7 linked regions of the Homo sapiens genome follow. The protein of the gene in region 6 purifies or fractionates together with the protein of the main gene of each other region. This does not show direct contact. Each region holds a gene or a part of one and is shown on either strand. Other genes may lie near its edges.

Region 1 (4,067 bases), on a different chromosome or scaffold from region 6:
AAGGCTTGTCCGAAGTCTGCTGAAAACTCACAAACCACTCAGAACCAGGTTTCCCACACCCAATTAATTCCAAGTGGTACTGTATCCGATTACCCCCATTTTCCAAGAGATAGTTTATTTTTTCCCCTCTTTTCCCCTCCCCACTACACTTTCCACTTAGCCCTTTTTGAACTGCAAAATAACCTCTCAACTCCCCTCACCAGACCATTCTCTACAGAGCAAATTCATCTACGAGATCCAAGACGCAACTCCCACCGCCAGGCGGTCGCCTCAGAAGGGTAAGCAGAAAGCATGCCCACTTGGCCACTTTTACAACTTATTTCTGCTCAGAAATGCACCAACTCAACTACCCGGTAGATAAGGCACCAGCTAGCAGAGACCTCTTGCTCATTTCCTCTTGTACCTTATAAAATGCCCGCTTTTTTGCTCCAAAGACGAAGCGGGCTGGCTTCAGAAATAAAATCCCTCTTCTTGTATACTAGGGCTCGCTCTTGTTAATTGGTGTCTACGTGTGGCGAGCAACTAACTCTCTTTTCCGTTAGAGCACTCAAAGCCCTGGTCAATCTACCCCCCAAGACAGCAGAGACCAGCACAACGATCCCAAGGAAGGCTGTTGGCTTCACCCCGCTTAAGTCCTCAAAGTCAGCGCCTGCAGCATATCCTTGCCCCCACCACCTGCCTCTAGCTCTGGTCACTTACACTTACGGTTAGTTCGCATCCACTGTAACAGCGCCTGGCGGTCGGCAGGAGCCACAGTGCGAAGCGGCCGCAGCATCACTGCCTGCCTCGCAGTGGGAAATTTTACCTTGCTGGAGCAAGCCGCGCAGGCACTGGCTGGCATTGCGCATGCGCAAGCAGAGACCGCCCCACCCTCCGCGGAACAAGCCTCCGGTCTGCAAAGCCCTAAGCCCCGCCCCTCTACGGAGGTCTCACGTGCGCCTGGGGATCCCTGCCTTCAGTCACACCTCTATCTCTCATCTTTCCGCTCTTAGCTGGGAGTGCTCCGCCTAGTCACTTTTCTTAAGGTGGCTCGTCGAGGCCTGACTTCTTCCCCGAAATCACGTCCCTAGACAGCCTCCTATTTTACCACTAACTTTACTCCTGCAGTTATTCAGCGGTAGGAAACTGAAACCAAAAACCAGTGTAAGCAAGTAAACATCTAAACTGTTTCAGGAGCCGCGTAGAAGGAACGCGGCGGTGTGCCCCGGAAGCGGAAGTAGATTCTCCTATAGAAAGGCTGGACTACGCGGAGTGGTGACGTTTCCTCATTGGGCGGAAGGTTCGCTGGCACTCCGTTGGTCTTCCAGCTGGTGGGAGTTGACGACGTGGTGCTGGGCGTTGGGACCCTACTTTATCTAGTTCGGGAAGTTGGGTTGTGGGGTCATACCTGTCTGTCTGCTCCCAGCTTTCTTGGGTTTCTTCCGACGGCGTGGGGCCTCGCTAAGGAATTCCCGGCCCCTCAGGGCCACGGCTTTAGCGGTGTCTTTTGCGGTAAGTGTCTGCTTTTTCCCGCCCCAGACTACGGAGGGGGAGCGAGGGGCAGCCCCAGCGCTGCTCAGGAGGCGAGAGACTCCGGGGGAAGTCGGCCTCCGTGGCCACCGGCCATCGTTACCGAGACTGAGTTTCTGTGGCTCTTTATCTCGTCTTCCATGAGAAGTTTTATTAAAGATGCGCTGTGCCCCTTTTGAGTTGTCTTCCGATTTACCTGAGCCAAATAAGATGTAGGCAGTTGCAGGCCTGAGTCTTCGTTTTGCTTTCCTGAGCAAGAATTTAGATGAAGCTACTTCCCCGAAAATCCTTTTACTTGTACGAGACTTTTATTTTTCCTATGTGTTTGTAGTGCTTAACACAATGTCCTGCGTGTAGTAGACGTTCAATAAACGAATATGGAATATCAGTTGAATGCCAATGATGATTTAAGATAGACTGATAGCTCTCTCTGTACCATTTGACGCTGCTGACCATCCATTTCTTGAAACTTTCCCCTGCTGCCTTTCTTCATGCTATCCTCACCTGATTCTTTCACATGCTTAATTTAACAAAATATATACTTGTTCTTGGCTACAAGGATACAGAAATGAATAACACTAACTCTGCCATTGAGAAGCTAACGCACATAAATACACATTATATCAAGATGGGTAATGAGAAACACTAGTTGCATATAAAGAGCTGTAGAAAGCTGTGGGAGAGCTAAAGTGCTCCTTAGGTGCTTTGTGACCCTGAGCCAGTTTCTATTCCAATCTAGCCTCAATTTCCTCATCTACTTAATAGGCTTGTTTTGAGGAAGAAAGGAGATTAGGTAAGAGGTTTGGTTTGGTTTAGTGCCTAGAATACAGCAATCGTGGTGCCAAAGGGGAGGGAAATATTTCCCTCAAATCGCTTTTTCTCAGTTTTTTGATATGGCCAACTGGTATTTTCTACCTTAATATAGAGTACTATGCAAAAGCATCTTCAAGTCTTCCTTCCAGATTACTCCTCTGTCCCCATCTATTTGGAAATTCTGGACCTGCCACAGGATTACAGTAAGATAACCATAAATGTAGCTTTTTAAAAATTGATTTTCTCCTATGTGCCATGGAGAAAGGGAAAGGGAATTAGTAAAAGCTCCTATCTCTTTGGTTATTTTCAGTCTTGGTTAACGCCGTCCTTTTAGTTGGCCCTCAGTCATTGCTATAACCCAAATGGTCTTCCACAGGCTCTCCTCGAGGCTTCTCGCTTGCTTCCATGGCATTGTCCCTATATGCCAACCATGTCCAAACCTTATTCTTTTCATTTCCAAACCTTGTTCTTTTCCAAACCTTATTTGCTCTGTCGCCCAGACTGGAGTACCGAGGCACCATCTCGGCTCACTGCAACCTCCGCCTCCCAGGTTCAAGCAATTCTCCTGCCTCAGCCTTCCGAGTAGCTGGGATTACAGGTGCCTGCCACCACGCCCAGCTAATTTTTGTGTTTTTAGTAGAGATGGGGTTCCACCATGTTGGCCAGGTTGGTCTTGAACTCCTGACCTGAAGTGATCCGCCTGCTTCGGCCTCCCAAAGTGCTGGGATTACAGGTGTGAGCCACCATGCCCTGCCTAAACCTTATTCTTTAGCCTCCATCTCATGAGTTGATAGTTCTGTACTTTCCCCTAAAACTTGCAAACTCATTAGGTCCAAAACCAAATGCACTGTCTTCACCTTCCTTTTTTTTTTTTTTTTCACTATGACATATGTCATGCATACGAAAGTGTATAAAAGCAGTGATTGTCAGTGCGTTTTTGAGTTTTGACCTCTGGTTGAATTTTGTGATACAAGTAGGTTAAATTTTTAAAAGGATTATAAGGGCTGTGAGCAATGGCTCACGCCTGTAATCCCAATACTTTGGGAGGCTGAGGCTGGCAGATTGCTTTAGCTCAAGAGTTCGAGACCAGCTTGGGTAACATGGCGAAACTCCCTGTCTCAACAAAAGAGACAAAAATTAGCCAGGCTTAGTGGCGCCGCCTGTAGTCCCAGCTAGTTGGAGGGATAATGAAATGAACATCTATGTACACATCCTTCATAAAAAGTGAAACATTAAAAATAATACATTAAGTCCCTTTGACCTCTTCTCTATTAACTCCTCTGACTTTCAAACCACCTTCCCTTTTTGCCTTCCATTCATTGGTTAATGGCATCACTAGCCATCTGGTTATAAAAACTAGAGATATTGGAATCATTTTTGCCTCTTTTTTCCTTCACTTGCCATAACCATTTGGTCATTAGATTCTGCTTCATGAATTAGCCCTTAACCCTAGTTTCTTTTTCTCTAGTTCAAGGCCACATCTTGTCTCAACTAGCCTTATGGAGTATGGGTAGTGCATGTAGTGTCCTGGCTCTTCAGTTTTTTCCCTCCAATGTATTTGTTACACTGTATCTAAAGATGTTTCTAAGGTATAGAACAGATTTCTCATTCTGTTGTTTTCTTTGGGACATGTTATTAAATACTTAATATAGTGATTATGAACCCTTGCTGCACATCAATATAGCTAGTGAAAGTTTTCAAAACATAAATGTCTTGTTTTGCACTCCAGATTAAGAATTTAGATG
Region 2 (3,500 bases), on a different chromosome or scaffold from region 6:
ATTGGGGAGTCATTTGAATAAAAATAAGTACATTTTTATTTAGTTACTTCCTACTAAAAGTACTTGAGTTCATGAGGAAGGAGACAGTGCTATTTGTCTCTGTAACTAATTCACTAATTTTTAATATGCGCAATAGTTAGTGGCCATTTTATATGTGCTACATTTTCTCATCAAATGTCTAGTAAATACAAAAACATAAAATCACATAGAACAAAAATAACAAGATTTAGTTCTATCAGTTGTAATTGCTTTTACCTTCAGAGGATACAAACTGGAGATGAGATAACCACTACTAGGGTTACCTTCAGACTTGACAGACTAGCGAAATTGAAGGCAAGGAAAACTTAAAAATAGGTCTTGGTCAAGCGAAAAACCTAACAAAGAAGAGATAGCAGGGCGGTGTGGTTTTGATTATGGAGTGATATGTGCATTTTAGATTTTCATACCAAATGCAATGTCCTTAAAAAAGGAGAAAGACTTGACCTTAGTTCAATACTAGAAGGGAAGGAAAGGTATCCATTAAAACAAATTCATTCACTTGCATTAAAAAGAATTTTTTTTCATTTATTCTGTCTTGATCATGTATTATTTCTGTCTATATTAGGTATAATTTTGATTCTTGGAGAGAATTTTCTTATTTAGATGAAGAAGAAAAAGAAAAAGCAGAATGGTATGTATGCAAATCATTAATAATGGAAGGTATTTATTTGGTTCTCTGGTATTTGTGATGATGTAAAAATTGTCACGTAAATTTTCTTTCATATTTTCTCTTTGTACATCTTTTTTAAACAATTTTTTAATATTTTGAAATCCTTTCTCACAAGTTAAACTAGGTGGGCCCAGATCAATAATTGGTTAGGATATGCTTAAGAAATTGCCAAGGAATATAATGTCAGATAGCTCAGTTCAGCAAAATCTTTTTCTTCTGGTTGCTTAACCTAGGTTTTATTAATTTTTTTTTTGTATGTGTGCAGAAATGCTTTTGACATGAATGTGCAAAAAATAACCAAAATTAATATTAAATAGAACCACTGTTTAGGCCGGGCGTGCTGGCTCATTCCTGTAATCCTAGCACTTTGGGAGGCTGAGGCGGGCAGATCACCTGAGGTCAGGAGTGCGAGACCAGCCTGGCCAACATGGCGAAACCCTGTCTCTACTAAAAATAGAAAAAGTAGCCAGGCATGGTGACAGGCACCTGTAATTCCAGCTACTCCGGAGGCTGAGGCAGGAGACTCACTTGAACCTGGGAGGCAGAGGTTGCAATGAGCCAAAATCACGCCATTGCACTCCAGCCTGGGCGACAAGAGCAAAAGTCTGTCTCAAAAAAAAAAAAATCATTGTTTAATGTTAGTAATGACACAGCATTTTAACCTCTAGGATGTTATGTACATATAAATATTTTATAAAATATTGCATTTTCCAGTCATAGCATCTATAAGCAGTAGTTTGTTTCCAATATTTTCTATTTTATAGTCGTGATGAGAGGAGATGGATTGAAAAGCAGAACAGAGCAACAAGAGCACAAAGAAAAAAAGAAGAAATGAACAGAATAAGAACATTAGTTGGTAAGTAGAATTGATTTAAGTCCCCTAAATGTTAGAAATTCAAAATGAGATTAACTTTTTCTTTTGCTAGACAATGCATACAGCTGTGATCCAAGGATAAAAAAGTTCAAGGAAGAAGAAAAAGCCAAGAAAGAAGCAGAAAAGAAAGCAAAAGCAGAAGCTAAACGGAAGGAGCAAGAAGCTAAAGAAAAAGTAAGACAACATTTAATGAAGGTGGACTTTAAATGTTTATGAAATCTTTAATCTTCACTTTAATCTTCACATCTTTTTTTAAAAAAAACTATAATTCGAAAGCAGAGAATTGGGTGCTACTGTGAATGAATCATGACCAGTTGGTATAATTGAGAGATCTTCCTTACCAGCACGTTTTTATTGAGCAAAAAATTGTGTCATAAGTTCCTTTAATATTATGCTTATTTCTAATATGTCAATTTTACATTTTCTAATAAATGTTTATAGATCTTTACCAGCTGTCTTTCCGAGTTCATCCTTCAGTTTTCAATAAGTTTATGTTGCCTTTTTTCCTAATATAATTTATTAAAAGTTTAAATTTTTAAAATTATAAAACATTTAGGAATTTTACTGTACCTATTAAAATGATTTTACTCCCTTTTTTTAAAGCAAAGACAAGCTGAATTAGAAGCTGCTCGGTTAGCTAAGGAGAAAGAAGAGGAGGAAGTCAGACAGCAAGCATTGCTGGCAAAGAAGGAAAAAGATATCCAGAAAAAAGCCATTAAGAAGGAAAGGCAAAAACTTCGAAACTCATGCAAGGTATATCAGACTGAACAAACACTAGGCACAAGTAAATCAAGTTGCTTATTAAGCAAAAATACTTCTTTTTGTTTGTTTGTTTTTTAGATGGGGTCTCGCTCTGTCGCCCAGGCTGGAGTGCAGTGGCGCGATCTCAGTTCACCGCAATTTCCGCCTCCGGGTTCGAGCGATTCTCCTGCCTCAGCCTCCCGAGTAGCTGGGATTACAGGCGTGTGCCACCACGCCTGGCTAATTTTTTGTATTTTTAGTAGAGACAGGGTTTCGCCATGTTGGCAAAGCTGGTCTTGTACTCCTGACCTCAAGTGATCTCCCCGCCTTGGCCTCCCAAAGTGCTGGGACTACAGGCATGAGCCACTGCACCCAGCCAAAATATTTCTTGAAAAAAAAAAATTATTTTTATTTATTTATTTATTTGAGATGGAGTCTCGCACTGTCACCTGGTCTGGAGTGCAATGGCACGATTTTGGCTCACTGCAACCCCCGCCTCCTGGGTTCAAGCAACTCTCCTGCCTCAGCCTCCTGAGTAGATGGGATTACAGGTGCCTGCCACCACGCCTGGCTAATTTTTTGTATTTTTAGTTGAGACAGAGTTTCACTGTGTTGGCCAGGCTGGTCTTGAACTCCTGACCTCATGATCCACCCATCTCAGCCTTCCAAAGTGTTGGGATTACAGGCATGAGCCACCTGTGCCCAGCCAAAAAAACTTTTTCTAATTAAGTTTTTGTTATTGTTGTTGTTGAGGCAGGGTCTCAGTCACTCAGGCTGGAGTGCAGTGGCGCCATCTCGGCTCACTGCAACCTTCACCTCCCAAGTTCAAGCCATTCTCATGCCTTGGCCACCCAAGTAGCTGGGATTACAGGTGCATACCACCACACCCAGCTAATTTTTGTATTTTTAGTAGAGACGGGGTTTCACCATGTTGGCCAGGCTGGTCTCAAACTCCTGGCCTCAAGTGATCCCCCTGCCTTGGACTCCCAAAGTGCTAGGATTATAGGCATGAGCCACTGCACCTGGCCAAGCATAAATGTATTTCTTTTCTTTACTATGCAAATGTAACTAAACAAGACAGAGTCTCCATCTCAAAAAAAAAAAAAAAAAAAAGACATGCTGAGATAACTGAAGATATGAATATAGACACAGTTTCAGAATATATATATATATATA
Region 3 (3,500 bases), on a different chromosome or scaffold from region 6:
ATAGGCATATGTGTTTAGAGTATCCTGGCCTCCTCTTGATAGGGTGTATCACTGTCCTTTAATCAAGCTAGAAGGTATACTCGAGCTTTTTCAGGTAGTCCTTCTTGAAACCTGCAGGATCACAAGTAATCTTTTTAATTTTCTTGTGTCCGTCCGTCTTTAATTTCTCCAGATACTGCAGGCAAACAGCTCGCCGAGGTGTCCCATGGGGGTTTAAAAGCCGCATCGAATGCAGTTGAATTAGCGCCCGTGGCGCAATCCCGCGGCCTGAAATGAACCCTGCAAGGCTGTATATCAGAGGGTATGTTGTTGACTATTGGCCTATTTTCCTACTGGGCAAATTATTCAGACGTAATGGAGATGGGGGCAGAGCTGATTAACTGAGGCTGTGTAAAAAGACTGTTTTTTCTAGAAAGGATCTTTTTTGGGGGCAGACATCAGCTTTGAGCATAATAGTTTCCTTGGCCCAAAGGGGTAATCTCCTGTCTTCTGATCCTGATGGCATAGACCCACACCCATGAAATGTTCTTCCCTGAGATTTTCTTCTATTGTGCCAGAATTTCTGCTTAGAATTCTTTATCTTGCCTCTGTTCTGTAATGTTTGATCTCTGTATATGTATTAAGCTACAATTAAAGCACATGTGGTGAATGTTCCCTTCACATACTTGTTTAAGGAAATTTCCAGCAGAGGTCTTACGTAATGTAGATGGACAAGAAACTTGGTTCTTGAAGTCTTTGTCCTCAGAATAGATTATGACATGAATTTTGATAGGTCTTTTGTTTGGTGTCTTACTTCTATCCTGACGTAATGCTCATATGCCCTGTGTTTCTAATACAGTATTCAGAAATAAGCAAAACCAAGGAGCAGCCTGTCTTTTTCTGAAGGAGAGTGGTTTTTATTTGGGGGGGCGGGGGGCAGGTGGTTCTATTATTCTGGTGCTTTTGGAACCTTTGTATGAAACACAGTTTATCTTAGATGCAGAAAAACATGGAGTAACATCCCTTCCAGAATGGCACTAACCAAATTTTTGACTGATGTGGCAAAACAAAACCTCAGTTCCTATTGAATTGAAAGACATGACTGCCAAGAGAAGGCTTATGTGATGGTGGCAGAAGCTGGTTATTACAATTAGTAATATTAGTAAAGGAGACATTTGTCTAAAGTATAAGAAGGAAGAAAAACATTTTAAAAAGCTAATATTCTACTTGGTGACCAAGACCTTTAAAGATTAGATTTAAAACTTAATTTTAGTTTGAGTGTTTTGTTTTGGCTGGCAAGGTTTGCTTACATTGCCTGACTTGTGAACTATTTATACCAAGGTGATGTCTTTCCTTCTCAGACCTCAGAATATATTATTCAAGCTTACAAATATGGTGCATTTGAGAAGATCCCAGAGTTTATCGCTTTTAGGAACAGGCTGAATAATTCTCTTCATTTTGCACAAGTCCGTACTGAACGGATGCTGTTAGACCTTCTACTTGAAGCAAATATGTAAGTATTGCATGAGAGCTATAAAGGAACTAAGGGATTAGATCAGTTGTTAAGAGCCATTAATGGGCTCATGGGTGTTATTGGCAGGCTTAAGGTAAAATAGGGGGAAAAAAGGGAGAGAGACAGTGGGGAAACAGAACTTGGCACATGTCATGGGGAATGGTAGAGTACTGCCAGCAACATCTTGAGACCATTACAGAAGCCATTTAGGTCATGGTCATCAATGCCTGGTCCATATTGTGCTTACGAAGGTTCCGCCTCCCCTACAAATCAAGAGATTTCAGGAATTAATGCTGATCCCCTTTGTTTTGTGTGGGCTTCCAGAAGCCTTTTTCTTGCCATGTAGCAAGCCAGTTTGATCTGCGCTTGGTTCTATTTCACCTTATTATGAGCCCTTCCTTCCTCTTTCCCTTCCTGTCTAGTAAAACAGGAAGTCCTGATTAATAATATTTTCTGGCTATTTTACTATTAAAATAATATGTGGATTTTTCTCTATCACAGATCAACCAGTTTAGCAGAAAGTATAAAGTCAATGAACCTTAGGCCAGAAGAAGATGACATTCCATGGGAAGATTTGCGAGACAACAGAGACTTAAATGTTTTTTTCAGCTGGGATCCAAAAGACAGGTAACTGGAATTTAACCCCAAGCAATTTTTAAAGTTTTTGTTTGTTTTTTGTTTTTTTAAAGAGACCAAGATCATAGCTCACTGCAGCTTCGAACTCCTGGGTGAAGCAGTTTATTTTTAAAGAATTAGGTTGGGCTGGGCACGGTGGCTCAGGCCTGTAATTGCAGCACTTTGGGAGGCCGAGGCCGGTGGATCACTTGAGGTCTGGAGTTCGAGACCATCCTGGCCAACATGGTGAAACCCTATCTCTACTAAAAATACAAAAATTACCTGGGCGTGGTGGCGTGTGCCTGTAATCCCAGCTATTCGGGAAGCTGAGGCAGGAGAATTGTTTGAACCCAGGGAGCGGAGGTTGCAGTGAGCTGAGATCGCACCATTACACTCCAGCCTGGGCAACAAGAGCAAAACTCCATCTCCAAAAAAAAAAAAAAAAAAGAATTAGGATGAATCTAAAATTAAAAAAAACAAACTTCACTTTACACAAATATAAAATAACATGTGTTTGTTGTAGGGATCAGAAAATATAGGTAAGCCAAATGAAGAAAGTATAGCTCACCCCTATGCTGGGACTGCTGGTTAATCTAAAAGTTAGATCTACTTCACAGCATATATGAGAATTCCAGATCGATTAAAGACTGTATGCTAAATTCTAGATTCCTTAGAAATTCTAGAAGAAAATATAGAAAATATTTTTAAATAGGTGAGGAAAGCCTTTCCTAGTATTATACCAAATCTGGAAACATAAAGGATTTAACTTCTGTAAATAGAAATAATAAATTTGTTAAGTTCTAAAGGTTTGTAGTAAATTTCTTCATACAAGTATCCTTCATATATAGAGAGAACTCTTAATAAGTCAATAAGAAAATAAGAAATTGGGCAAAGAAACACATCTTACAGCAATAAAGATTTTGTTTCTAGCAAAAAAGATGAATACTTGTGGTCAGCAAGGCTGTGTGGTAAATACTTATTATGCATTTACACAGGGATAAATTTTATACAGTCTTCCTATAGGGAGTTGTAGTGATATGTATCAAGATTTAAAATGCCACATACCATTTAATTTGGCAGATCTGCTTCTAGGAAAGTAGAACCTAAGGAAATAAATGCAGAAACATGCTAAGAAGTGTATATGAGGTAGTTCTGAAAATTCTGTGATTTGTGGGTTGCCAAGGCCACATTCAGTGATTTAGGATTGTTGAGTCCCAGAAGGATTCACAGGGCTGAGCATATAGTTGCACTCAACGGCTAAGGTTTATTACAGTGAAAGGACACATGACAGAATCCGGAAGGGAAAAAGGAACAGGCACAGTCGGGAGAACTCAGACTTCCAGTGCTTTCTCCCTCCTCTGAGGGGAAACACTGAGTATGCTCCTTTCTCCAG
Region 4 (3,500 bases), on a different chromosome or scaffold from region 6:
TGTAATCCCAGCTACTCGGGAGGCTGAGGCAGGAGAATCGCTTGAACCAGGGAGGCGGAGGTTGCAGTGAACCGAGGTTGTGCCACTGCACTCCAGCCTGGGTGACAGAGCGAGGTTCCGTCTCAAAAAAAAAAAAAAAAGAGATTGGATTGGAGGCAGGGAGGGCTGGAGTCTTCCACACAGGAGGTGGTGTGAGCTGTGCCAGGGCTGAGGTGGGTGGAGGGAGTGAGGAGAGGGAGGGATTGTTGAGGCAGTGGGGAGCTATAGTGAGTCTCAGGGATGACTCCCCCCAGCTCACGCTGGTGGGATGGACAGGTGGTGGGTATCCATCTGAGAGATGGAGAGCCCTCTGCAAATCCAGCATGTCCTGGTTCCAGGTGGGGCCGGGGTGGTGAGGAGCTGGGCTGGTGGGCGGCCTCGGTGACAGAGCCTCGCCGCCCCAGCGGGGCAGCTGGCTGGGACCTCGTCGGTGGAGATGTACCGCCAGGCACTACTATGGGGCTGCCGCTGCGTGGAGCTGGACGTGTGGAAGGGACGGCCGCCTGAGGAGGAACCCTTCATTACCCACGGCTTCACCATGACCACAGAGGTGCCTCTGCGCGACGTGCTGGAGGCCATTGCCGAGACTGCCTTCAAGACCTCGCCCTACCCCGTCATCCTCTCCTTCGAGAACCATGTGGACTCGTGAGTGAGCCCCTGGCATGAAACCCCATGGACCGGGGGACAGTCTTCCAGCTTCAGTGCTGTTGGACTGCTCAGGGACCTCCAACCCTGCGAACGGCCACTGACATGTCCCGTAGACCTCAGCTTCCTCTCTGGGGGAGGGATCTCTGACCTCTGACCTCGGTTCCGCAGGGCAAAGCAACAGGCAAAGATGGCTGAGTACTGCCGCTCCATCTTTGGAGACGCGCTACTCATCGAGCCTCTGGACAAGTACCCGGTACGGGAGCTCGGAGCGAGGGGGGTGGCATGGGGGCCAGGGTGCTGCGGACCCGGTCCAGGGCCCTGACTCGTCCATGCCTGCCCAGCTGGCCCCAGGCGTTCCCCTGCCCAGCCCCCAGGACCTGATGGGCCGTATCCTGGTGAAGAACAAGAAGCGGCACCGACCCAGCGCAGGTGGCCCAGACAGCGCCGGGCGCAAGCGGCCCCTGGAGCAGAGCAATTCTGCCCTGAGCGAGAGCTCCGCGGCCACCGAGCCCTCCTCCCCGCAGCTGGGTAGGCCCCAGCCCGGCCCGCCACCCTGACTTGACCCTAGCCTCTGGCCTCATGCTCCAGGCGCCGTGACACTTCATCCCAGACCCCCAGCCCACCCTCCTGCCTCGCTGTGCGCCTGTTCCCACAACCGGCCTGTCTCCTCACCACCTGTCGGCTGGTGTGGGGCCTCTGACCCCTGACCTCAGGTGCACGTCTCACCCAGCTGCACCCCAACTCCTGACTCCCAACCTCAGCCTCTCACCTCTCAGAGCCTTCCCACAACCCGGTGATGGCTCTGAAGGCTGACCTCTGACCTCAGTAAACCACATCCCACACTGGGTGTGACCTCAGACCCCTAAGCCCGCATTGAGTTCACCTGCCCAGTTGGTTATCATTTCAGCTGACCTCTGACCTCTCACCCCTGACTGTTCACCTCACTATGCCCCCTCCTTAGACATGGCTCTGACTTACCCCTGACCTGTAACCTCTCTATGTCATCCCTTACCCCGCTATTAGGGCTGTGGTATGCTACTTCCTGACTTCTCACCCCACTGAACCACCCTATCTGCCTCCCTGCTGAATATCACTGCAGACCTTTACCTTTGACCTATGACCCCTCTCAACCCATACTGGGTTAATACCATCTGACCTCGACCTCTTGGCCTCTCCCCAAGCCACACTGCCCTGAGAGTACCCCTTGAATTCCCCACTGAGTCACCTCGGCACACACTGGGAAAAACCCCTCCAGACTTCCTAAGCAGCTGTGTGGTCCTGACCCCTCACCCTGTGGCCCTGTCCTCTGCAGGGTCTCCCAGCTCTGACAGCTGCCCAGGCCTGAGCAATGGGGAGGAGGTAGGGCTTGAGAAGCCCAGCCTGGAGCCTCAGAAGTCTCTGGGTGACGAGGGCCTGAACCGAGGCCCCTATGTTCTTGGACCTGCTGACCGTGAGGATGAGGAGGAAGATGAGGAAGAGGAGGAACAGACAGACCCCAAAAAGCCAACTACAGATGAGGTCAGGCCCACAGGGTGGGCAGGTCGGGGAGGTAGCATCTATTTACCTCCCAGGGGGCTGGGTCTGACCATCAACAAGACTGACATCACCCCTGCCTCCTGGGGCTCAGTGTGGGTGTGAGTGAAGGTGGGAGGAGGGCTCTTCAGTCATCAGGCATGGAAACAAGCATACAGTTCTGCTGGTGATGTGGCCTGGGAGGTGCGAGTTAGGGTACAGAACTGGCAGAGGATAGGGAGTCTACCCTGGGCAGGGAGGTGGGGCAGGGAGACCTCAGGAAGGGGGACAGCATGTACAAAGGTCCTGGGGCAGGGCCAGGGGGTGCAGGAGCGGGGAGCATTGTCATGGGGAGCATTGAGTAGCTGTGAGGAATGGTACAGAAAAAATCAGTCTGAGCTGGGCGTGGTGGCTCACACCTGTGATCCCAGCTACTCGGGAGGCTGAGGCATGAGAATCCCTTGAACCTGGGAGGTGGAGGTTGCAGTGAGCTGAGATTGCACCATTGCACTCCAACGTGGGCTAAAAAGGGAGACACTATCTCAAAAAAAAAAAAAAAAAAAAAAGACATCATTGCTATAAAGACAATTACTGGAGCAATTAGTGAAATTTAAAGATGGACTACATATTAGATAATATGTTAATGTTTTGTTTCCTGAATTTAATTATTGTATTGGAGTTATAGAAGAGAATGTCCATATATGCTGAAGTATTTATGGGTAAAGGGTCATGATGTCTATAATTTACTCCCAAATGATTCAGTAAAAGTAATGATAATTATAACACCTATATGGGCCAGGCGAGGTGGCTCATGCCTGTAATCCCAGCACTTTGGGAGGCTGAGGTGGGCGAGTCACCTGAGGTTGGGAGGTTCCAGACCAGCCTGGCCAACATGGTGAAACCCCATCTCTACTAAAAATACATAAATTAGCCGGGCAAGGTGGCGGGCGCCTGTAATCCCAGCTACTTGGGAGGCTGAGGCAGGAAAATTGCTTGAGCTGGGTGGTGTCCAGGGCGCATCAGTGAGACCCCGGGGAGAAGACTGTCGGCACCACCAGCAGTGTGTATATAGTGCTGGGAAGAGGGTCAGCACCTCCTTCATGGGGGGCAGGTGAGGGAATGGCCAGCTGTGGCGGGAATGGCACTGCTGACCCTGGGTTGGGGCCCACAGGGCACAGCCAGCAGCGAGGTGAATGCCACTGAGGAGATGTCCACGCTTGTCAACTACATCGAACCTGTCAAGTTCAAGTCCTTTGAGGCTGCTCGAAGTGAGTGGGGGTGGGTGGCAGGCATGGGAGCTT
Region 5 (3,500 bases), on a different chromosome or scaffold from region 6:
CGTTTAACTTATGATAAGCATTTTCTACATTGCCCCAAACTCTAACCATATAATCTTCCTTTTTGGGAATGTATTATAATTTTTTTTTTTGAGAGAGAGAGTCTCGCTCTGTCGCCCAGGCTGGAGTGCAGTGGCACGATCTCGGCTCACTGCAAGCTCCGCCTCCCAGCTTCACGCCATTCTCCTGCCTCAGCCTCCCGATCAGCTGAGACTACAGGCGCCCACCACCATGCCCGACTAATTTTTTGTATTTTTAGTAGAGACGGGGTTTCACCATGTTAGCCAGGATGGTCTCGATCTCTTGACCTCGTGATCCGCCCGCCTCGGCCTTCCAAAGTACTGGGATTACAGGCGTGAGCCACCGCGCCTGGCCGTATTATGATTTTTTTAACCATTTCACCCATTCTTTGGACATCTGAGTTTCAAGCGATAAAAAGGATGAAGATACAGTTTTAAATGGATGTATAATTTCTACCGTACAATAGCAGTACTCAAGAAAAATGCATTAGCAGGAAGATATGGGTGATTTTCTGTTGGTATAATACATATTATTTACTAAAGAGGTGGGGAGCAGGTCCCTGTGGACCAGCTGTGACTTTGCGGCAGCCCCACTCCCCATCTCCGCAGTAGCCCCTACCCTTGTTTTCCCTCATCCTTCAGGGATGAACCACTGCACTCAGGTCTCTCGGGTCAAGCACCTACCCAGAACGAGTGATGGGGCCCCTAGCAGTTGGGAGGACTCTGCCCAGTCTCCAGGGGCAATTCCTACCAAGGTTCAAGCCATTGAGGCCCTTGAGGGTGTGGGTTTGGTGTTAATGGATCTTTTGAATTTTCGAGAGAAAGAGCAAGATTACTCAATTTCTAATGTGAGGGGTTCCTGACTTCTTATTGTCAGTGGCCAATTCAACTTTAAAAGTACAATAAGTCTGGGCACAACACAACACAACTGTATGCAGAATAAGGTCCATGTCCTCTGAACAGTCTGATCTAGAGGAAGGAGACCGCTTACCCCAACACTGTCGGAAGGAGGGGCAGCAAGGAGTGATAGAAAGAAGCAGCAGCAGAAACCCAGGAGGAGAGAAAAAGAAAGGTGGGGGCAGCACCCACAGGGAGCAGACGCTGGGTTCCTCCCCACCCCTGGGCCCTTTACGTCATAGCCACAGCTCCAGGCCCCACTGGGCCTTAACTACCACCTGGTTCTGTTCCTGCAGATTCTTTTTCATTCCAAGGAAGAGACCATCTTCCAGAGCCAAGGGAAAGCTCTACTCAGACCTCCCATAGCGTGAGACTTCCCAGGGAACCTCCTCTAGCAGAGCAGGCTGTCCCTCCTCCTGTAGGCCCAGCTCTCTACAGTGATGGCTAAAAACAAGCTCCTTTTCTTCAAGGGTTGTACCAGTTAAATGCTAGATTGGGCACGTGCTTCAGTCATTCATATAACTTCTCTATGGCACCACCCTCAGGGATTTGTGGGTCAAAAAGGTATCTTCAGTCACGAAAATTTACCAGACCCACCCTAGAAAAAAAGCTGATCTTAACCTGAAAATCACTGTTGGAGACAAGAACCACATTAAATAACCCAGCTAAGGCAGGGGCTGAGGAGAGTCAGCAAATGCTTGTTGGTATCTTCTGTGCATTTGGGAGATTCTGGAAAATCTTTGGCAACTTCAGGAAAAAAAAAGTACTTTTATGGCTTTTCTTGTGCTGATAATGTTTTCTACAAAAGAGATTCCGGGCATAGTATGTCTGTTATTGCTCTGGGCACAGTAGGTCTGTTAAAATTACTGTTCCAGTTGTTGAAAGAATTTTGTTATTATTTGGTTGCCTGCCTTTATGTTTTTCAAAGGCAGTGTCTTATGGAGTAACTAAATATTTTAGTTAATAACAGACCTTATCTGGCATACTTTTAAACATCTATGACTATAACATTTAATAGAGTTTTTCATAGATATTAGAAAGATAAATTTTGGTTGATCCACTCAATATGTGACTCTTTGAAGTCATGTTACCTACACTAATCAAGATAGTGTGGTGCTGGCATGAGAACGGGCATATACATCAATGGAATAAAATAGGGAGTCCGGAAATAAACCCTCACATGTATGGTCATTGATTTTTGACAAAAGGGCCAAGTCAATTCGATGGGGGAAAGAATAGTTTTTTCAACAAATAGTGTGGGGTAACTGGATATCCACATGCAGAAGAATGAATTTGGACCCTTACCTTACATTGAATGTAAAAATAAACTCAAAGTGATCACAGACCTAAATCTGTAAGTTTTAGTTACAAACCACTTAGGAGAAACGCAGGAGTAAATCACAATCTTGGGTTAGGCGATGACTTACTAAATATGACACCAAAAACGTAGCAGTAAGAGAGAAAATTGCTAAGTCCAATTTCATCAAAATAAAAAACTTTTGTAATTATCCAGTGTAAGATATTTTGTCATAACAGTCTTGGACTAAGACAGAACTTATATCCAGAATATGCTGTATAAAGACCTCTTAGAACGCAACATCAAAGAGACAAATAATACAATTAAGAAATGGACCAGGGATTTAAGCAGACATTTCTCCAGAGAAGGTATACAGATGGTCAGTTAGCACGTGAAAAGATGCTTAACATCTCTGGTCATTTGGGAAATGCAAATTAAAACCACAATGAGACAGCACTTCACTCCCATTAGGATGGTTATAACTAAAAGGAAAAATGGGCTGGTTGCAGTGGCTCACACCTGTAATCCCAGCACTTTGGGAGGCAGGTGGATCACCTGAGGTCGGGAGTTCAAGACCAGCCTGGCCAACATGGTTGAAATGCCATCTCTACTAAAAATACAAAAATTAGCTGGGCATGATGGCGGGGGCCTGTAATCCCAGCTACCCAGGAGGCTGAAGCAGGAGAATCGCTTGAACCCAGGAGGTGGAGGTTGCAGTGAGCCGAGATCATGCCACTGGACTGCAGCCTGGCGACAAAGCGAGATCCCATCTCAAAAAAAAAAAAAAAAGAAAAACGATGACAGGTGTTGGGAAGGATGTGGAGAAATGAGAATCCTCAGGCATTGCTGGTGGCAATGTAAAATGGTGCAGCCTCTTTGGAAGTTCATCATTTGAGGAGAGGCAGTTCCTCCAAAGGTTAAACATAAAGTTAACTTATGGCCAGTCATCCCAATCCTAGGTATCTACCCAACAGAAATGAAAACAACTGTCCACAAAAGACTTCCATGTGAATTTCTTAGTCTGAAAGTGGAAACAACTCTGTCAGCTGATTCATAGATGAAACTTTATTTGGCAATAAGAAGAAATGTAGTTCTGATCCATACTATAACATGGATAAATCTTTAAAACATTATGCTAAAATCCAGTCACAAAAAAAAAAAACATGTATATTGTATGATTTCATTTATAGAAATGTCCAGAAGAGGCAAATTTGTAGGATGGAAAGTAGATTAATGGTTGCCTAAGACTGAGGAAAGGGGAATGGAGTGAGTGCCAGTGGGTATGGGA
Region 6 (3,500 bases):
CTGCTAAGAGTTAGGATTAGAACTCAGGTCCTGTTCTTAATCCTGTATATTACTTGTTTTCCCCTAGGCTCCTGTATAAGTCATGCTTTGCTTAAGGATGGGGATACATTCTAAGAAATGTTTCCTTAGGCAGTTTCATTGTTGTGCATGTTGTTATTTTTAAGAGCTTATTAACTTTTTAACTCTTGATTTGTGATATGTTTTGCAAGTGTTTCCCCAGTTATTTGTCCTTTAATTTTATTTATGGTGTTTTTCTAACATAGAGTCTTTAAAAATTGTCTCTTAGCTGCTATGTCAGTAAAAGAAGTCCTTCAAAGCTTAGTTGATGATGGTATGGTTGACTGTGAGAGGATCGGAACTTCTAATTATTATTGGGCTTTTCCAAGTAAAGCTCTTCATGCAAGGAAACATAAGTTGGAGGTTCTGGAATCTCAGGTAAGCTGCCACAGTTAAAAAGAATAGAGTTGCTTTATAACGGAGAGTTGTTTTACTTCATCCTCTTTTTGTTTAGCAGTTTCTTTTGAATTTTTGATATGCATTATTTGACTGAAAGTCTAAAGATAATTAACATCTGTTTCTCCTAAACAATATGAGGAACTTAGAACGTTTTAATTTTCATCTTCCCATATGTCAAGATATTGTTTTTGTTGTTGCTGTTTTTATTGTTTTTTAATTTTCTCTTTATCAATAGATGGTTTTTTGGAAGCAGTTTTAGACTTACAGAAAAATATTGATGGAAAAGTACAGAGAGTTCCCAAACGTGCCCTTTCTCCCTCACCACGCACACAATTTTCCCTGTTATTGACATCCTATACTAGTGTAATATGTTTGTCACAATTGAGTCAATATTGATTTATTACTAACTAAATTCCGTAGCTTACATTAGGGTTCAGTCTTGGTGTTATACATTATGTGAGTTTTGACAAATGCATGATGACGTGTATCCACAATTATAGTATTGTACAGAATAGTTTCACTGCCCTAAAAATCCGCTGTTTCCTACTTGTTCATCCCTCTCTTCTCCCGAAACCGTAGCAACCACTGATCTTTTTACTGTCTCTATAGTTTTACCTTTTCCATATAGTTGGAATCATACAGTATGTAACCTTTTCAGATTGGCTTCCTTCCCTTAACAAAATGCATTTGAGGTTTCTCCATGTCTATTAATGGCTTGATGGCTCATTTCTTTTTATTGCTGAATAATATTTCGTTATATGAATATACCACAGTTTGTTTATCCATTGAGCTATTGAGGAACATCTGGGTCACATCCAAGTTTGGGCAGTTACAAATAAAGCTGCCATAAGCATTCATGTGTAGGTTTTGTGTACACATAAATTTTCAACACATTTAGTACCAAGGAGCGTGATTGCTGGATTGTATGGTAAGTTTATGTTTACTTTCTAGGAAACTGCCAAAGTATCTGTTTTTGCATTCCCAACTACAGTGGGTAAGAGTTACTATTGGTTCACATCACTGCCAGGATTTGGTGTTGTCAGTGTCTTGTATTTTAGCCATTCTAATAGATGTGTAGTGGTATCTCATTGTTGTTTTAAATTGCCATTCTCTAATGACATATGATTTGGAAGATCTTTTTTTTTTTTTTTTTTTTTTTGTGAGACGGAGTTTCACTTTTTTTGACCAGGCTGGAGTGCAATGGTGCGATCTCAGCTCACTGTAACTTCTGCCTCCCTGGTTCAAGTGATTCTCCTGCCTCAGCCTTCCAAGTAGCTGGGGTTACAGGTGCACACCACCACACCCAACTAATTTTGTATTTTTAGTAGAGACGGGGTTTCACCATGATGGCCAAGCTGGTCTTGAACTCCTGACCTCAGGTGATCCACCCACCTTGGCCTCCCAAAGTGCTGGGATTACAGGCATGAGCCACCACACCCAGCCCTGGAACATCTTTTTTTATGCTTATTTGTCATCTATGTAAAAGGAGGTGTTTAGATCTTTTGCCCATTTTTCAATTGGGTTTTTGTTTTCTCGTTATTGAGTTTTAAGAGTTCTTTGTATATTTTGGACACCAGTTCTTTATCAAATATGTGTTTTTCAAAGATTTCCTCTGAGTCTGTGACTTATCTTTTCATTATCTCAACAGCATCTTTCACAGAGCAGTTTTCAATTTTAATGAAGTCCAACTGGTCAATTTTTTTCTTTCCTGGGACATTCTTTTGGTGTTGTAACTAAATAGTCGTGGCCAAATCCAGGGGCATGTAGATTTTCTCCTATGTTACCTTCTAGGAGTTTTGTAGTTTTGCATTTTACACTTAGATTTATTATCCATTTTGAGTTAATTTTTGGGAAAGGTGTAAAGTGTGTGTCTAAATTCAATTTTTTGTACATACATGTCCAAAGTAACTGTATTTTAGTATAATTTACTTCTTTTCTGTATGTGTGTGTGTGTGTGTGTGTGTATATATATATACACATAAAAATACACACATATATACACAAAAATATATAAATATTTTTATATAAATAAATAAATAAATAAATACTATAAATATTTTTGTGTGTGTGTGAGACAGGGTCTTGCTTTGTGTGTATATGTATATACACATATATACACACATATACATATACACATATATACACATATATTCATATATACACATATATACATATATACACATATATATACACATGTATATATAACTACTAAAGTACCCAGGGTCTTGCTTTGTCACCCAGTCTGGAGTGTAGTGTCGCAAACATGGCTCACTGCAGCCTCGACCTCCCAGGCCCAAGCCATCCTCCCGCCTCAGCCTCCTGAGTAGCTGGGATTATAGGCACACCACCAAACTCTGCTAATTTTTGCACTTTTTTGTAGAGACAGGGTATTGCCATGTTGCCCAGGCTGGTCTTGAACTCCTGAACTCAAGTGATCCACCTACCTCAGCTTCCCAAAGTGCTGGTGGGTGAGCCACTGCGACCGGCCTGTAACCCTGTGCACTTTATGGATTTAAAAACACTTCAAGAAGGAATCCGTACTGAAGGACATCCTTTAGTAATTTGTTCAGCCAGAGTTTAAGAGTGGTAAACTCTCAATCTTTGTTTGAAAATGTCTAATTTATCATTGCTTCCCGAATATAGAATTCTTAGTTATTTTTCCTCAGCATTTTGAAAATATTACTTCATTGTCTTGTGGCATATGTTGCTAATGAGATGTTTTGCTATCATTCTGATTGTCTTGTTTTCCTTAGTAATCTCTCTTCTGTTTGCTTTTAAGATTTCCTTCAGTCTTTGATGTTATGTTTTGATGTTTTATCATGAATCCGAGTTTGCATGTTTTTATTTCCTCTTCTTTAGGACCCTGGCTGCTGCTTCCATGAAATAATTAAAGTCTCCTATTATAGAAAATTCTGGCTGGGCGCAGTGGCTCACGCCTGTAATCCCAGCACTTTGGGAGGCTGAGGCGGGCAGATCACGAGGTCAGGAGATCAAGACCATCCTGGCTAACACGGTGAAACCCTGTCCACTAAAAATACAAAAAA
Region 7 (2,364 bases), on a different chromosome or scaffold from region 6:
TGGTGAAAGTCTAAGTCCTACTAAAATACAAAAATTACCTGGGCGTGGTGACAGGCACCTGTAATCTCAGCTACTCTGGAGGCTGAGGCAGGAGAATCACTTGAACCCAGGAGGCGGAGGTTGCCTGAGCCAAGATCGTGTCACTGCACTCTAGCCTGGCAACAAAGCGAGACTCCCTCTCAAAAAAAAAAATAATAATAATAAAAATAAAATTTCTTGAAATAAAAACCTAAAAATCTACTGTGGGATATTTTTAATAGATGGCCGTGTTACAGAAATTTAAGAAAAAAACTCAAATTTTAGAATCAATCATAGTACAGTATATAGGGTATGTATTATGAGTGGCAGAAAAAAGGATATTCATATAAGCTTGAAATTTGCTTTCATTGAACTGTATGATTGAATAGAAACTATAACTTGGAAAAATTAAAAATGCTAGTTTTGAAACTGACCTTCATGTTAAGTAACTAAAACCCATGATCAGAAAACCTTTAGATACACATGGTAGAATTTTGTTCCACATTCAAAGAATGTTTCGTACTTTTCAGAAAAGAAGTATTGATCTTTTGTTTTTTTTCGTGCAGTCATTGATTAATTATGAGCACCATGCTGTCCCTGACTCTGGTGCCCCTGCTCTTTCCTGGCAGAGCGTAGCATGCGGCAGTGGGAAAGAAATGGCCCTGCTTCTTTCACCAGCACTAGGCAGCCGTGATCAGGCTAACTGCTGTACCCAGAGGTGGAGTAGGAGTAGTAGGTGGGGTGAAATGTCTTGGTGAGGCAGAATTCCCATGCCCCCAGCAGAGAGTCATTGATTTATTCCAAACCAGAATAGTTAGATAGGTACTGTCATAAAGGACTTAGACCAGTATCACATATGATCCTTTTCCAGGAGGCTACTCATTTGGGACCTGTATAATTCCTAGCGGAAAAGACTTTCCATTTCAGTATATCCCAGTGCTCTCCTGCCTCAAGGGTGTAGCTAATAGTCTTTAAAAAGCAACTTATTGCTTTGCTTTTCATAACATGTGTGACCTCATCGCTTCCACCTTAGGAGTGAATGCTTATCTATATTGCTAAGGTTTATATTTGGAGATAATGTTTTAAATTTTACAACAAATTTAAATTTTGGAGAGAAATATTTCAGTATTAGTAAAAATTAGATACGTTTTATCAGTCAGTATTTTTATATGGCTTAAGAGAAGGTAGGTTTTGTCAGCATATTTTTTGACATATTAAAAAATGACCCAATTTTCTAAGATTTTCAGAGTATTAGCAATCATACCTTTGTATGTCAGTTTTATCTTTGCAAATCACGAGAGTCGATTTGATTTTAAAATGTTAATAACTATATTTAGGGATATTTATATTTCTGTTCTTTTGCTTTTGTAAATTATTGACTAGTGATTTCAGTTTCTTTGATTTTTCTTCAAGGTTCAAGAACCAGAAAGAGAGTCCAGAAGTAATTCAGATGCTGTGAACCAGATTTCCTTTTCTTTGTTTTCTTTTGACTTTTTTCTCCTTTTCTATTTGAACTGTTTTATTTTCCTGTGAGTCTTGCGAGGTGGAAGTAATGATTAAATACTCATGTGTTCAGAAAACATAAACTTTTTTTATAAAAATATTTTGTACAATTCATTAAAGGCTAATTTATGAAATTTGAAAATCTTCAGGTTATACTCCTTAAGTTATCCCAAAGCCGTGTGTTTGTGATGTTTTGGAGTACATATATATGAAAATTATTATGACACGCACTTTTCTAATCATTGTACATTTCTCAGAGTGGATAAAAATGTTTGACAAAGTCCTCACTTTTAAGGAAATGCAAAGCTTAAAATAAAACTCTCTTTTGTTTGATGCAAACACACAGTATGTTGTGGCTGTAAGGTTTGGTTTGTATTGATTTTGTTCTGTTCCCAAAATCTTTTATTAAACACCTGCTGTATGAGACAGGAGGTACAAAGACAGGAAAGGAATATGAAATAAAAAGTGGAGGAAGCGTATCCATGAGAGAGAAAATCTACATATATGAAAGATTACATAAGAATTATGTCAGTATGCAAGCCGTATGACAAGAAAACAAGTGACAGATGATCAAATGGTGGTGTGATTAAAGATTGTGTAAAGACTGGCTTCATCTACGGAAGTCCTATGAACTAGATATTAATAGATAGAGCCTATTGTTCATTCACAGAAGTTTATTTTTCTTAAAAGTTTCACTTTCATAGCATGTAATATTTATACAGTAAACCAAGCACTTCAGAGTTTCAGTGATCAGAAAGTTTAAGATCTGAAATGTTTTTAGTTGCCTTGGGAACAGAAGCTTGTAATTTTAACACATTTATGAACAATTTCATGATTCATTCC

Evidence for each region.
Region 1: the proteins of MND1 (region 6) and SRP54 purify together in Homo sapiens (affinity purification with mass spectrometry; one large-scale study listed by BioGRID and IntAct). This does not show direct contact.
Region 2: the proteins of MND1 (region 6) and DNAJC2 purify together in Homo sapiens (affinity purification with mass spectrometry; one large-scale study listed by BioGRID and IntAct). This does not show direct contact.
Region 3: the proteins of MND1 (region 6) and NAA25 purify together in Homo sapiens (affinity purification with mass spectrometry; one large-scale study listed by BioGRID and IntAct). This does not show direct contact.
Region 4: the proteins of MND1 (region 6) and PLCB3 purify together in Homo sapiens (affinity purification with mass spectrometry; one large-scale study listed by BioGRID and IntAct). This does not show direct contact.
Region 5: the proteins of MND1 (region 6) and RTF2 purify together in Homo sapiens (affinity purification with mass spectrometry; one large-scale study listed by BioGRID and IntAct). This does not show direct contact.
Region 7: the proteins of MND1 (region 6) and VRK1 purify together in Homo sapiens (affinity purification with mass spectrometry; one large-scale study listed by BioGRID and IntAct). This does not show direct contact.

The regions. Positions count from the first base shown.
Region 1 is NC_000014.9:34,981,725-34,985,791, forward strand, and holds the start of SRP54 (signal recognition particle subunit SRP54), read left to right. Parts: upstream 1-1,267; 5' UTR 1,268-1,491; intron 1,492-4,067. UniProt on the Homo sapiens protein: Component of the signal recognition particle (SRP) complex, a ribonucleoprotein complex that mediates the cotranslational targeting of secretory and membrane proteins to the endoplasmic reticulum (ER).
Region 2 is NC_000007.14:103,320,768-103,324,267, reverse strand, and holds part of DNAJC2 (dnaJ homolog subfamily C member 2), read left to right. Parts: intron 1-604; coding exon 605-670; intron 671-1,473; coding exon 1,474-1,565; intron 1,566-1,635; coding exon 1,636-1,757; intron 1,758-2,186; coding exon 2,187-2,336; intron 2,337-3,500. UniProt on the Homo sapiens protein: Acts both as a chaperone in the cytosol and as a chromatin regulator in the nucleus.
Region 3 is NC_000012.12:112,046,284-112,049,783, reverse strand, and holds part of NAA25 (N-alpha-acetyltransferase 25, NatB auxiliary subunit), read left to right. Parts: intron 1-172; exon of another isoform or gene 173-301; intron 302-1,340; coding exon 1,341-1,492; intron 1,493-1,993; coding exon 1,994-2,119; intron 2,120-3,172; exon of another isoform or gene 3,173-3,500. UniProt on the Homo sapiens protein: Non-catalytic subunit of the NatB complex which catalyzes acetylation of the N-terminal methionine residues of peptides beginning with Met-Asp, Met-Glu, Met-Asn and Met-Gln. May play a role in normal cell-cycle progression.
Region 4 is NC_000011.10:64,258,030-64,261,529, forward strand, and holds part of PLCB3 (1-phosphatidylinositol 4,5-bisphosphate phosphodiesterase beta-3), read left to right. Parts: intron 1-443; coding exon 444-684; intron 685-855; coding exon 856-940; intron 941-1,028; coding exon 1,029-1,215; intron 1,216-1,999; coding exon 2,000-2,205; intron 2,206-3,370; coding exon 3,371-3,467; intron 3,468-3,500. UniProt on the Homo sapiens protein: Catalyzes the production of the second messenger molecules diacylglycerol (DAG) and inositol 1,4,5-trisphosphate (IP3).
Region 5 is NC_000020.11:56,506,627-56,510,126, forward strand, and holds part of RTF2 (replication termination factor 2), read left to right. Parts: intron 1-3,500. UniProt on the Homo sapiens protein: Replication termination factor which is a component of the elongating replisome. Required for ATR pathway signaling upon DNA damage and has a positive activity during DNA replication.
Region 6 is NC_000004.12:153,358,188-153,361,687, forward strand, and holds part of MND1 (meiotic nuclear division protein 1 homolog), read left to right. Parts: intron 1-286; coding exon 287-435; intron 436-3,315; coding exon of another isoform or gene 3,316-3,420; exon of another isoform or gene 3,421-3,500. UniProt on the Homo sapiens protein: Required for proper homologous chromosome pairing and efficient cross-over and intragenic recombination during meiosis.
Region 7 is NC_000014.9:96,879,746-96,882,109, forward strand, and holds the end of VRK1 (serine/threonine-protein kinase VRK1), read left to right. Parts: intron 1-1,431; coding exon 1,432-1,463; 3' UTR 1,464-1,864; downstream 1,865-2,364. UniProt on the Homo sapiens protein: Serine/threonine kinase involved in the regulation of key cellular processes including the cell cycle, nuclear condensation, transcription regulation, and DNA damage response.